4 linked regions of the Homo sapiens genome follow. The protein of the gene in region 3 interacts with the protein of the main gene of each other region in a pairwise test. Each region holds a gene or a part of one and is shown on either strand. Other genes may lie near its edges.

What was found.
Region 1: the proteins of DHX15 (region 3) and NKAP interact in a two-hybrid assay, tested with the Homo sapiens proteins (one large-scale study listed by BioGRID and IntAct).
Region 2: the proteins of DHX15 (region 3) and TRA2A interact in a two-hybrid assay, tested with the Homo sapiens proteins (one large-scale study listed by BioGRID and IntAct).
Region 4: the proteins of DHX15 (region 3) and CAMSAP3 interact in binary tests that used the Homo sapiens proteins (3 or more experiments, as listed by UniProt).

The regions. Positions count from the first base shown.
Region 1 is NC_000023.11:119,937,252-119,940,751, reverse strand, and holds part of NKAP (NF-kappa-B-activating protein), read left to right. Parts: intron 1-1,941; coding exon 1,942-2,022; intron 2,023-3,500. UniProt on the Homo sapiens protein: Acts as a transcriptional repressor. Plays a role as a transcriptional corepressor of the Notch-mediated signaling required for T-cell development. Also involved in the TNF and IL-1 induced NF-kappa-B activation.
Region 2 is NC_000007.14:23,514,982-23,518,481, forward strand, and holds part of TRA2A (transformer-2 protein homolog alpha), read right to left. Parts: intron 1,548-3,500; coding exon 1,382-1,547; intron 1-1,381. UniProt on the Homo sapiens protein: Sequence-specific RNA-binding protein which participates in the control of pre-mRNA splicing.
Region 3 is NC_000004.12:24,539,555-24,543,054, reverse strand, and holds part of DHX15 (ATP-dependent RNA helicase DHX15), read left to right. Parts: intron 1-28; coding exon 29-115; intron 116-1,032; coding exon 1,033-1,182; intron 1,183-2,106; coding exon 2,107-2,215; intron 2,216-2,755; coding exon 2,756-2,947; intron 2,948-3,500.
Region 4 is NC_000019.10:7,612,863-7,615,833, reverse strand, and holds part of CAMSAP3 (calmodulin-regulated spectrin-associated protein 3), read right to left. Parts: coding exon 2,671-2,971; intron 652-2,670; coding exon 512-651; intron 417-511; coding exon 115-416; intron 1-114. UniProt on the Homo sapiens protein: Key microtubule-organizing protein that specifically binds the minus-end of non-centrosomal microtubules and regulates their dynamics and organization.

The sequences.
Region 1 (3,500 bases), on a different chromosome or scaffold from region 3:
AATTGTCTGTTACTTCAGGTGGGAAACCCTCTCAGTCTGACTCTGCATAGTTATAATACCTTTTCCCCTGATTAAGGAGGCAAAAACGATTTATACAAAAACTCATTGCAATTATATTTATTTTGGAAGGATTTTTAAAAACAAATGGAGTCACAAGCAGCTAAAATTTGAGAGAATGAGCCTTAGTCTTTGTTTTGTTTTGTTTTTTAGTTTATGAGGAATAACAAAAATTAAAACAGAAGAAACCATAGGCATAAAACAAAAGAAGAAACAAATTTTAGTGTCCTTCAAAGAATAGATACAAAATGCACTCCTTTTCCAAAAAGGAACTAAAAGGAAAACAGAGAGGGAACAAACCTTGTATCTCATTGAGTATAGTTTTTTTTTTTTTTTTTTTGGTTTTTTATTTTGAGATAAGAGTCTCACTCTATCACCCAGGCTGTCATGTGCAGTGGCGTGACCTTGGCTCACTGCAACCTCCACCTCCAGGGTTCAAGAGATTCTCCAGCCTCAGCCTTCTGAATAGCTGGGACTACAGGCACATGCCACCGTGTCCAGCTAATTTTTGTATTTTTTTTAGTAGAGACAGGGTTTTACCATGTTGGCCAGGCTGATCTTGAACTCCTGACCTCAGGTGATCCACCTGCCTCGGCCTCCCAAAGTGTTGGGATTACAGGCGTGAGCCACCACGCCCAGCCCCAAGTATATTTTTTGTTAAATGAAACTTTTTGACTAGGTGCAGTGGCTCATGCCTGTGATCCCAACGCTTTGGGAGGCTGAGGCAAGAGGATTGCTCGAGGCCAGGAGTTCAAGATCAGCCTGGACAACAAAGCAAGACCTCTTTTTTTTTTTTGAGACGGAGTCTCGCTCTGTCTCCCAGGTTAGAGTGCAGTGGTGCGATCTTGGCTCACTGAAACTTCCACCTCCTGGGTTTAAGCGATTCTCCTGCCTCAGCCTCCCTAGTAGCCAGGATTACAGGCATGCGCCACCACGCCTGGCTAATTTTTGTATTTTTACTAGAGACGGGGTTTCACCATGTTGGCCAGGCTGGTCTTGACCTCCTGATCTCAAGCAATCCGCCCGCCTCAGCCTCCCAAAGTGCTGGGATTACAGGCATGTGCCACCGCACCTGGCGGCAAGACCTCATCTCTACAAAAAAATAAAAAACTTTTATTTCGGGCCCGGTGCAGTGGCTCACGCCTGTAATCCCAGCAACTGAGGTGGATCTCCTGAGGTCAGGAGTTTGAGACCAGCCTGGCCAACACGATGAAACCCCATCTCTACTAAGAATACAAAAATTAGCCAGGCGTGATGGCGCATGCCTGTAATCCCGGCTACTAAGGAGGCTGAGGCAGGAGAATTACTTGAACCCAGGAGGCGGAGGTTGCAGTGAGCCAAGATCGTGCTACTGCACTCCAGCCTGGGCGACAGAGCGAGACTCCATCTAAAAAAATAAATAATAAAATAAAATAAAAACTTTTCTTTCATTTTCAGAACTTCAGTTGTTTTCTACGTCTAATGCATCATTTTTATTTTCTTCATTAATTCCTCGATTTCTGAAAACTGAAGGTTTGACCATATCAAAAGAGACTTCTCTTCACCTTTCATAAATCTGTAAACAAATGAAGTTACTTACAAATGTGAAGCTGTTTCTGTCACATATTACAGATGATGAAATGAGCAGTTAAGAGCTGTGTCATGCATTCAGCAGAATGGATGCACTTGACAGTCTCCCAGGCCATCATTTCTATAGTCTGTACCATTTGATAGTATCATCAGAACATCAGACCTTAAGTGATGAGTTTACATTTAAACCAAGTTTTTATCCATGTTTAAAATATAAAGGGAAAAAAGGCTTAACTAGACTCCTATTGAATTTGATTATATATTTAGGAAACAACTCAGCCATTGAGTTATAATTTACATGTCTTTATCTGCTAGGAGATTAAGTGAGAGAGAGAGAATTGGAGAATTGGGAGCTCCTGAAGTATGGGGACTTTCTCCAAAGAATCCTGAACCAGAGTAAGTGGTTAAAAAATATATTTTTAAAATGTTATAATATGTGTTTAAATCCTGAATCTATTGTGAAAATGTTTAAGTGAAGAACTTTAAATATATCTCACATTTTTCTTTCTTGTGATTTATGTTCTTCTACCCCTTAAGTTTTAAAAACATAGAACATATCTAAAGATTAAAACATGTTGCTAGTAGGTTTTAGCATAATCTAAAATAATTCCTGGAATATAATTTTCCTATTAATAGAAGGGTTCATTGTTAAATAATACACATTATTTTGAATTATTTTTTCTCAACTAAACTCAGTGGCAGATTGCATGCCAGATATTAACATTACAAAGAGATTTTTTTTTTTGAGATGGAGTCTTGCTCTGTCGCCCAGGCTGGAGTGCAATGGTGCGGTCTCAGCTCACTGCAACCTCCGCCTCCTGGGTTCAAGCGATTCTCCTGCCTCAGCCTCCCGAGTAGCTGGGATTACAGGTGCCTGCCACCATGCCCGGCTAATTTTTGTATTTTTAGTAGAGACGGCGGTTTCACCATGTTGGCCAGGCTGGTCTCGAGCTCCTGACCTCGTGATCCGCTTGCCTCAGCCTCCCAAAGTGCTGGGATTACAGGCGTGAGCCACTGCGCCCAGCCTACAAAGAGATTTTTTAAAACGAATATACCAGTATGGTTTTGTTAATATTCCTATATCCAATACTATCTGCAGACTTAATGCTTTTTCTTTTTGCTTATTTCTTTTCTCTTTGATGCTACTCATAAGTTTCTTCTTCCCTCTCTGTTTCTGTGCCAACTTTAGGTTGAGTTGAGACAATGTGCTTGACAGGTAAACCTGTAATTTGTGATTGGATAATAAAGCATTATTATCTGAAACTTGTTCTTACAGATACCTTTAGAAAATGCTTGAAGAGGCCAGGTGCGGTGGCTCACGCCTGTAATCACAGCACTTTGGGAGGCCAAGGCAGGTGGATTCCTTGAGCCCGGGAGTTCAAGACCAGCCTGGGCAAATAACAAGACTATTTAAAAGAAAAAAAAAAGAAAACACTTGAAGAACCTGAATGTATTGAATTAGAGTTGGAAGGAACCCTAAAAATAGTTTTCTTTCTTCTTTTTTTTTTTTTTTTTTTTGAGACAGAGTCTTACTCTGTCACTCAAGCTGGAGTGCAGTGGTGCGATCTTGGCTCACCATAACCTCCGCCTCCCAGGTTCAAGTGATTCTCCTGCCTCAGCCTCCCGAGTAGCTGGGATTACAGGTGCATGCCACCATGCCTGGCTAATTTTTGTATTTTTAGTAGAGATGGGGTTTCACCATGTTGGTCAGGCTGGTCTTGAACTCCTGACCTCATGATCCGCCCACCTCGGCCTCCCAAAGTGCTGGGATTACAGGCGTGAGCCACTGCACCCAGCCAAAATAATTTTCTAGATAATATTTAAATTACTCCAAGTATGATCTTCAGAGGAAAAGATTATATGATGTGGAAACT
Region 2 (3,500 bases), on a different chromosome or scaffold from region 3:
AAAACCAAAACTAAAACTCCTTCAATGTCATACATCCAAGACTCAATTTTTTTTATATATAACATAACTTGCCTCACAGAAATGTTAAAAGCTTTAAGTGTACTGAATAAAAGTGTTAGCTATGATTACTACAAAGTTTTTAATATTTCTTTGACCCCCTTACCCCATCAAAAAACTTTGAATATAACCCAGTATTCCCAACTCAATTTATGCTTTTCACTTGAATTCGTGGAACATATTTCTTTTTTTTTTTTTTTTTTTTTTTTGAGACGGAGTCTCGCTCTGTCGCCCAGGCTGGAGTGCAGTGGCGCCATCTCGGCTCACTGCAAGCTCTGCCTCCCGGGTTCACACCATTCTCCTGCCTCAGCCTCCGGAGTAGCTGGGACTACAGGCGTCTGCAACCGTGCCCAGCTAATTTTTTGTATTTTTAGTAGAGACAGGGTTTCACCGTGGTCTCGATCTCCTGACCTCGTGATCCGCCCACCTCGGCCTCCCAAAGTGCTGGGATTACAAGTGTGAGCCACCACGCCCGGCCGGAACATATTTCTTCCCAAATTTCATCTCCTTTTCTTTTTTTGAGACAGAGTCTCGCTCTGTCTCCCAGGCCAGTCTGGAATGCAGTGGCACAATCTCGGCTCACTGCAACCTCCACCTCCTGGGTTCAAGGGATTCTCCAGCCTCAGCCTCTCAAGTAGTTGAGATTACAGGCGTAAGCCACCACGCCTGGCTAATTTTTGTATTTTTAGCAGAGATGGGGTTTCACCATGTTGGCCAGGCTGGTCTCGAACTCCTGACCTTAGGTGACCCACACCCTTTGGCCTCCCAAAGTGCTGGGATTACAGGTGTGAGCCACCACGCCCAGCCTTCATGTCCTTTTTACTCAAACGTCATGAAAAGAAAAATATACTCCCGGCCAGGCATGGTAGCTCACGCCTGTAACCCCAGCACTTTGGGAGGCCAAGGCAGGTGGATCACCTGAGGTCAGGAGTTTGAGACCAGAGGGGTCAACATGGTGAAACCCCATTTCTAAAAACACAAAAATTAGCTGGGTGTGGTGGTGCACACCTGCAACCCCAGCTATTCAGGAGGCTAAGGCCGCAGTGAGTCGAAATTGCACCCCTGCACTCCAGCCTGGGAGACAGAGTAAGACTTTGTCTAAAAAAAAGAAAATATACTTCCTTTGCATTCTTTGTCATAAAACATGGTAAGCTTACGAAAGATGGTGGCATTTCCTTTACTTTGAAAGCTAAAGCAGCTTATTAAGGATGTTTCCAGAGTATCACTTCTAAACAATGGCCAAGCTCCCCTAAAAGCAAGATATGCCATGACTAAACACATAAAAGAGAAAATAAGTCTTCATTAACTTTTATAAACCACGTACCCTGCTGCCAGTATGTCTTCTCCGGTTAGACATTGGAGAATGGCTTCGGCTCCTTCGCCGCCGGTATTCTGGTGTATATGATCTACTTCGAGATCGTCTCCTATGAGAGTGAGAGTGGGATCTGGATCGAGTGTAACGTCTATGAGAATGTCTCCTTGACCTCGACCTTTGAGAGAAATACATTTAGGTAAAAATACTGAAACAAAATGGCTAAAGTCCTTCCCTCTTCCAAGAAGGTATACATATATCCCTAACTATTCTCAGGTCCTTCCTCCTTGCTTCTGAGGAAAGGGTATTCTTCCTTTGGTTCACTTAAGTCACTACATCTTCCACTCTTCTCAGTCAAGCCCCTCTACATTCACCCTTTTCACCTAACCTTACAAAAATGTTAAGGCCCCATCTTCTTTTAAAAAACAAAAAAAAAACAAAAAACAAAAACCCACTATTGCTATAAAATAAAATCGTGGCCGGGTGCGGTGGCTCATGCCTGTAATCCCAGCACTTTGGGAGGCCGACGCGAGCAGATCGCGAGATCAAGAGATCAAGACCATCCTGGCCAACATGTTGAAACCTCGTCTCTACTAAAAATACAAAAATTAGCCAGGTGTGGTGGCAGGCACCTGTAATTCCAGCTACTTGGGAGGCTGAGGCAGGAGAATCGCTTGAACCCAGGAGGCAGAGGTTGCAAGCCGAGATTGCGCCACCGCACTCCAGCATGGTAACAGAACGAGACTCTGTCTCAAATAAATAAATAAATCCTTTGATTCTTAGCTAAGTGCAGTGATGTGTGCTTATGTTCCCAGCTACATGGAAAGATGAAGCAAGAAAAATCACTTGGGGCCGGGCACGGTGGCTCATGCCTGTAATCCCAGCAACTTGTGAGGCCGAGGCGGGCGGATCACGAGGTCAGGAGATCGAGACCATCCTGGCTAACATGGTGAAACCCCTCTACTAAAAATACAAAAAATTAGCTGGGCATGGTGGCGGGCACCTGTAGTCCCAGCTACTTGGGAGGCTGAGGCAGGAAATGGCGCGAACCCAGAAGGCGGAGCTTGCAGTGGGCTGAGATTGTGCCACCGTACTCCAGCCTGGGCGACAGAGCAAGACTACGTCTCAAAAAAAAAAAAAAAAAAAAAAAAAAAGAGAGAAAGAAAGAAAAATCACTTGGGCCCAGGAGGACAAGTCTAGCCCAGGCAACATAGCAAGACTCCACACTTCTATTTTAAAAAAAAAAACAGAAACAAAGACAAAACAAAACAAAAAAAATCAGGCTGGGCGCAGTGGCTCATGCCTGTAATCCCAGTACTTTGGGAGGCCGAGGCAGGCAGATTACGAGGTCAAGAGATCGAGACCATCCTCGCCAACATGGTAAAACCCTGTCTCTACTAAAAATACAAAAATTAGCTGGGCGTGGTGGCGCACACCTGTCATCCCAGCTACTTGGGAGGCTGAGGCACGAGAATCACTTGAACCCGGGAGGTGGAGGCTGCAGTGAGCTGAGATCGTGCCACTGCACTCCAGCCTGGGAACAAGCACAAAACTCTGTCTCAACAAACAAACAAACAAACAAAATCCTTTTTGATTTTCTGCTACTTTCTCCATATAGTTCTTTGTCGCCCAGGCTGGAGTGCAGTGGCATGATCTCAGCTCACTGCAACCTCTCTCTCCCAGGCTCAAGAAATTCTTCCACCTCAGCTTCCCAGACAGCTAGGACTACAGGCATGCACCACCATGCCTGGCTAATTTTTATATTTTCTGTAGTGACAGGGTTTCGCCATGTTGCCCAGGCTGGTCTTGAAGTCCTGTTCAAGCAATTTGCCCACCTCGACCTCCCCAATTAAGCCAGTGTGCCTGGCCCATAAAGTTCTACATTCCCCTCTCTGCTAAGTATCATTTCCATTTCCAATTCTTCTTTAGCCTGCTGCAATCTAGTATCTGCTAAACTAATTCAACAACCACCTAAATGCCCATCAAAACTGGTAACATTTCTTTTTTTGGAGACAGAGTCTCACTTCTTCACCCAGGCTGGAGTGCAATGGCACAATCTCAGCTCACTGCAACCTCCGCCTTCTGGGTTCAAGTGATTCTCCTGCCTCAGCCTCCCAAGTAGCTGGGATTA
Region 3 (3,500 bases):
ATAATTTATATACTCTATTTCTTAACAGGTAGTTGTGTCAACTAACATAGCAGAGACGTCTTTGACAATAGATGGTGTGGTGTTTGTGATTGATCCTGGATTTGCGAAACAGAAGGTACATATTTAGTGGATACTTTATAAATTAGAGTTGGTTTAACAGTACTTACAACCAATTCATTTAATGGCTAAAATTTACCTTTCAGAATTATTTTCCTATCTTTTTTTTTATTTGCAAATTTCTGCTGTATGAACCCTTTATGTTTTGGCTGGCTCTCAGAAATTAAGACAGTATTTAATATGTAATTCTAGGCTTTTTTTTCTTTTAGAGTTGCTTTGCTTTCTTTGTTTCAGTGTAGTGACGGTGGGTGTTTTGGCTTGTATATTCATTTAACAGTATGGGTTTAGTAATAAAGTACAGGATTTCTATCCCTGCAGTTCAGTCACTTCTCCCAACATTATTAGAGTTACTGCTGTCAACTAGGCACACTATTTGAAAACAGTACTATGTTACTCCTCTAGTTTAACAGTGCTGTATACTAAATGAAGTGAAATGCAGGTGAAGTGGCTATTCAATAAATACGTTTTATTTTTCAAATATCTTTTGGATAAATTGATTACATTTTGTTATTGATGGAAATTTTTTCATTAAACAGTAACAGAGTAATAGTACTCAGACCGTCGAGTTTTGAAAGTGAAGGTTTCTTTTCGGGCAGAATCCTTGACTGCCCAGCATATAAAAAGCAAGGAACAAGGTCAGCCTGATAGAACTGAAATTAGGAGGAGTAAGGATTATATAAGCTGTGTGTTTGACAAGAAGTTTTTCATGTTAGAGTCTTTCAGATGATCGAATTAGAATGTCTGAAAGAACTTTAAGGTTCAGGATGGTGGGTTGTCTATTGTAGCAGCATGATTTATGGCTATCGATATTTCTTTATTTATTTTGGAATTAACTGTGGGCTTTGGATACTTCTGTTGCATCACAATTTTGTGTTTGACTGAAGAAAGACTCTTGTGTTATTTCAATTCCAATAGGTCTACAATCCTCGAATCAGAGTTGAGTCCCTTTTGGTGACAGCTATTAGTAAAGCTTCAGCTCAGCAAAGGGCTGGTCGAGCTGGACGTACCAGACCTGGAAAATGCTTCAGACTTTACACAGAGAAAGCTTATAAAACAGAAATGCAGGTATGGGGTATTGTCGTTTCCTGCCGATATGTTTAAAATGTTAGGTTGAATTATCTTACCAGAAGAACATTGCCTTATTTACTTAATCTTGCCTTTTAGGATTAAAAGCTCCTTAGCTTTTCCAGGAGTGAAATGTATGGTGTAATTAACTTAGATAGTCGTACACCCCCTTATTCCAGGCTGATACATTCCAAGACCCTCCCCCTCCCACGCCTAAAAACTGGAATATGCTGAACCTTACTTACATATACTATGTATAAATATCTTTCTTTACAATTTCACTGATAGAAGATGCATTCTTTCTTTAGATGTGATTTTTTTGCTCTTTTGTTACTAGGTTTCAACTTTTTTTCTTTCCTTACTAACTTTCAGCGTTTCACTTAAAGGAAGCACTTCAGGGCCTCTCATTGGCATATCCAAATTGCCAGCATCAATATTCTTGGCGCTTTGGGGCCATTATTAAGTAAAAGGTTACTTGAGCACAAGCACTGTGATACTGCAAAAGTTGATCTAATAACAGATGGTTGCTAAGTGACAAATGGGTGTATAGTGTATATAGCATACTACTAAGAATGGTGCACAATTTAAACTTGATGAATTTTTTCTGGAATCTTTAAAATTTTTTCTGTTGACACTGCTTAACTGAAACCATGGAAATTGCGAGTTCAGATGAGTGAAGACTACTATACGAATTTCTTTCTGCAGTTGCGAGTTTTATGGACAGTAGCAAACACTGAATACTATAAAGATAGTTGGAGAAAAATGGTTTCTCTCTAGTCTAGCCTACAAGTATTTATCTCTACTGAGACAGTGTAGAAGTAATGCCAAAACAAATAGCTCAGGAGGCAGCAGATTTTTGTTTTCTGGAACGAGGAGACTGAGGCATTTTTAACATAACCAATAAATGTTTTTGTTCTTTGCTAGGATAACACCTATCCTGAGATTTTGCGTTCTAATTTAGGATCAGTTGTGTTACAATTGAAGAAACTTGGTATTGATGACTTGGTACATTTTGATTTTATGGATCCACCAGGTATGACTTATCAAAACACATTTTTATCAGATCTTTTAACCAAAATTGACTCTTAGTGTTTTTCTCCATCCTATTTAATATATGTATTAAATACATTTTGCTTTTTCCATCCAGTATGCATCAAGATTAAGTCTTACATGATAGCATTAAAACTAAAAAAGGTGACAGTTATATGAGCACATTTTTTTTTTTTCTTCAAAAGTTATTATGGGGGGGTTTGGGTAAATTGAATTATCCTCTGGGCATGAAAATGTGAGAATTCCTAAGTTTTCTTTGGGGAAAAACAGTTTGATAAACACATTGATGAATTAGCAATTATTTAATGTATTTCGGAAGAAGACAGTTTTGCCTACAGGAAAATTTTGCAATGTTTTTATGATTCATTGTTTGCTAGATCTGTATAATTGAATTGGATGACAGTTTGAGTTTGAGTTTGGTCCACTGCAAAATGAAAAATGAGATTGCTTATAATAGTTTGTACTTTGTCACATTTTTGCTTGCTTAAGGCACCGTGTCTAATAGATTGTCTTTTACCACTAGCTCCTGAAACTCTGATGAGAGCCCTGGAACTTTTGAATTACCTGGCTGCTTTAAATGATGATGGAGATCTGACTGAATTGGGATCCATGATGGCAGAGTTTCCTCTAGATCCACAGCTCGCAAAAATGGTTATTGCAAGTTGTGACTACAACTGTTCTAATGAGGTCCTATCTATTACTGCTATGTTGTCAGGTAATAGAGGGAAAGGAACAAAAAAAAGCCCAGCTCTTCAAAGTTTGGGTGGACTTCACTTTTGTTTTTGTTTTTTAATTTTTAGTATGATAGTGGATTTTATAGATGGTTTTAAGGAATTAATTTTGTTTTCTAAATACCTTGTAAATAGCTTCGTAATGACATAGTGCTTACAAAAGTAAAGTAAGTCATTGTGCACAAAAGATAAGTAAAGCATTGGCTCTCTTGAGTGCTAATAAAAATTGCAGTAAGTTTGAGCACAGTTGTAACTGAATTCTTTGGTTAAAGGTCCATCACTGCTATCTTTGTGGTTTTTTTGTTTTTTGTTTTTTACTGCAAGTACAGGAAGAACTTTGCTCTAGTACTTAGCTCTATTAAGTGTGCCTGTGACAAACTGAAAGCTATACATTAAGTTGAGCCTTTTCTATATATGTACTCCAATGGCACCCGAACAAACATGAATTTCAAACTTCATATCAAGTAAATAGAAATAGTAATGTATAATTTTAGGCTTAAAATCTAATCTGATAATGGTATTCTTTTACAATGGTAG
Region 4 (2,971 bases), on a different chromosome or scaffold from region 3:
CCTCCCGGCACCCCTGCTTACATCTCCCTCCCCCTCCCCCCTTACCCATGGGGGCCTCACCCAGTGAGCCCCGGAAAGGGCACTGGGCAGGCCCCGTCCCCCAAGGGTCCTCACCCAGCAGGCCGCGGGCTGGGCTTCGTGCCAGGGCTGAGTCGTCACAGCAACCCGAGCGAGGCCGGGTGGCCCTCCGCCCGCCCCGACCTGGACCCCCGGACCCCGCAGCCCGGGGCCGCAGCACCTTATCGAGGTCGTCCATCAGCTTCAGCTGGGCCCGGCGCTCGTACTCCTGCCGCGTGAAGTCCCCCTTCCGGGGGCCCACCTCCTCCTCGGCTGGAGCCCGGGCAGCAGGGGCTGGAGTCGCCATCGGGACTGCGGACACAAGCGGGGCTGGGCCCGGGGCCTCCTCTTGGGCCAGCCTGCAGATCACAGGGAATCGGCATCAGAACCGCTCACGGGGTCCGCGGTGGCAGACAGGCCAAGGAGCGGGCGTCCCGGGCAGGCCCGGCCTCACCTCGCGGCCTCCTCCCTCCGCTGTTCCTTCTCCACCTCCTGCCACTGCTTGCGCCGCCGCGCCTCCTCTGCTCGCCGCTGCTGCCGCTCCAGCAGGCTGGCCCGCTTTTGGGCCATCTCGTCCTCAGGCTTGTCTTCATCCTGGGGACAGACGCCGAGTCCAGCCAGCCACCCCCTCCCCCAACATGGCTGGAGGCCCATCTTCCCTCCACCCAGCCTGCCCGCCACCCACCTGTGCTTTTGTTTTCATCATTGTTCTAAATGCACTTAGTTGGTGCCTACTGTATGCACAGCCCCACACTAAGTACTGGGACACAACAGGGATGGGATACACTGGGTGCCGCTCACACACACACTGCTTAACCCAACGGGGAAGACAAAAGCAGCAGACAGCAGTGAGTGCCAGCAAAAGCTCGTGTTGGGCACAGACACTCTACACTGCGGGAGGACCCCGGCCTGGCCTGGAGACACCCAGGAAGGCTTCCCAGAGGAAGTACCCTGTAGAATGATCAGGATTTAACTAGGTGGGCGTACAGAGCAGAGCGTTCCAGGCAGAGGGGACAGCTAGTGCCGAGGCCCTGAGGCTGGAGCAAACCTACTGGGGGGCACGGAAGTACAAGGGGGCCAGTGTGGCTGGGACACAGAGCTGAGGACAGTGGCGCAGGACTAAGTCAGAAGTGAGTACAGGCCAGACGCGGTGGCTCACACCTGTAATCCCAGCAGTTTGGGAGGCCAAGGCAGGTGGATCACTTGAGGTCAGGGGTTCGAGACCAGCCTGGAGAAACCCTGTCTCTACTAAAAATGCAAAAATCAGCTGGGCGTGGTGGCATGCTCTTGTAGTCCCAGCTACTCAGGAGGGTGAGACAAGAGAATCACTTAAACCCAGGAGGTGGAGGTTGCAGTGAACCGAGATCATGCCACTGCACTCCAGCCTGGGCCACAGAGCGAGACTCTGTCTCAAAAAACAAAAAACAAAAGAAAACAAAACAAAAAAAAAAAATGAAAAGGAAGTCCTCCCCAGGGCTTTGGGCTGTGCTCACTTTTTTTTTTTTTTTTTTTTTTTTGAGATGGAGTCTCGCTCTGTTGCCCAGGCTGGAGTGCAGTGGCACGATCTAGGCCCACTGCAAGCTCCACCTCCTGGGTTCACGCCATTCTCCTGCCTCAGCCTCCTGAGTAGCTGGGACTACATGCGCCCGCCACCACGCCAGCTAATTTTTTGTATTTTTAGTAGAGACGGAGTTTCACCATGTTAGCCAGGATGGTCTCGATCTCCTGACCTCATGATCCGCCTGCCTTGGCCTCCCAAAGTGCTGGGATTACAGGCATGAGCCACTGCGCCCGGCCACCCTGGGGAGGACTTTCATTCTAAAAGCAAGGGTAAGGGGAGCAGTCAAAATCCCCGACCACTCAGTGCAAAATGGCCCGGGATGGAGGCAGGCAGCAGAGGCCAGTCAGGTAACCCTAGGTGTCCCCGGCTGGGAAAGCCATGGGAATGGAGAGACAGTGGACACAGGGCAGGGCCAGGAAAGGGGTGGTAGGAGCGTGCTGGGGGCGAGGGGGTGAAGGAGAGGATGAGCAAGGAGGTGCGCTGAAGATCCTGGTCCTGTCCGTCTATCTGTCCATCACCCACCCACCCATGCAACCAGCCATTCATCCATCTGTCTATCCATGACTCCTCCCTGTTTCTCCACCCCTCCCCACATCTATCTATCCCCCTTGTCCGGCCACCCATACCTTGTTTGGGAGGGACATGACTGGGTCAGCCCCCACTGGAAACCCCTCACCCCCAAACATACCCGAGGGCCTCACTCATTAAGCCACAGGGGGAGGACCTCTCACCCCACTGCACCCCCACAGCCCCTTGTGGAAGTCCTTACCCAACAGACAGGGTCAAATCCCATCTGAGGCCCCTGTCACCCCACATACCTGCCCCCCACCGTGCAAATGTCCCTTTCCCCCCTCTCCCACCCATGGAGGCCTTACCCAGCCACTCACACCTGTTCTGTCCATTCATACCTGGCTCCCCATCTATCCCCCACCCGCCCACCCATCCTTCAGTAAAGCCCTATTCATCCAATAGTGGGTTTGTCCACCTCCCCCCGCCCCCACCCGCCCCCGCCCCAGGCCCAGGACCCTCCAGCCACCTGCTCGGGGACTCACCTTGTAGAAGAACCCCAGCCCCACCCGGGGCTCCCCCTCCGAAGACGCCTCCTCCTCCAAGGAATCCTCAGCACCAGCGGGGCTCCCGTCTCCCTCGTCCTCGGCGGCGGGATCTGCCAGGCTGCCCAGCGGGATCTCGATGAGGCCCGGCCGGGCGGCTGGCTCCTCGGGGGGCGTCTCCTCCGCCAGGAGGATGGAAGAGCGCGTCTGCACGGGCACCTGGCTCGGCGAGAACTTGCGCAGGTGGGGGAGGCTGTCTACGTCGTGGGGTGGCGTAAGCACCCTGGTCAAGGGTGCCAGC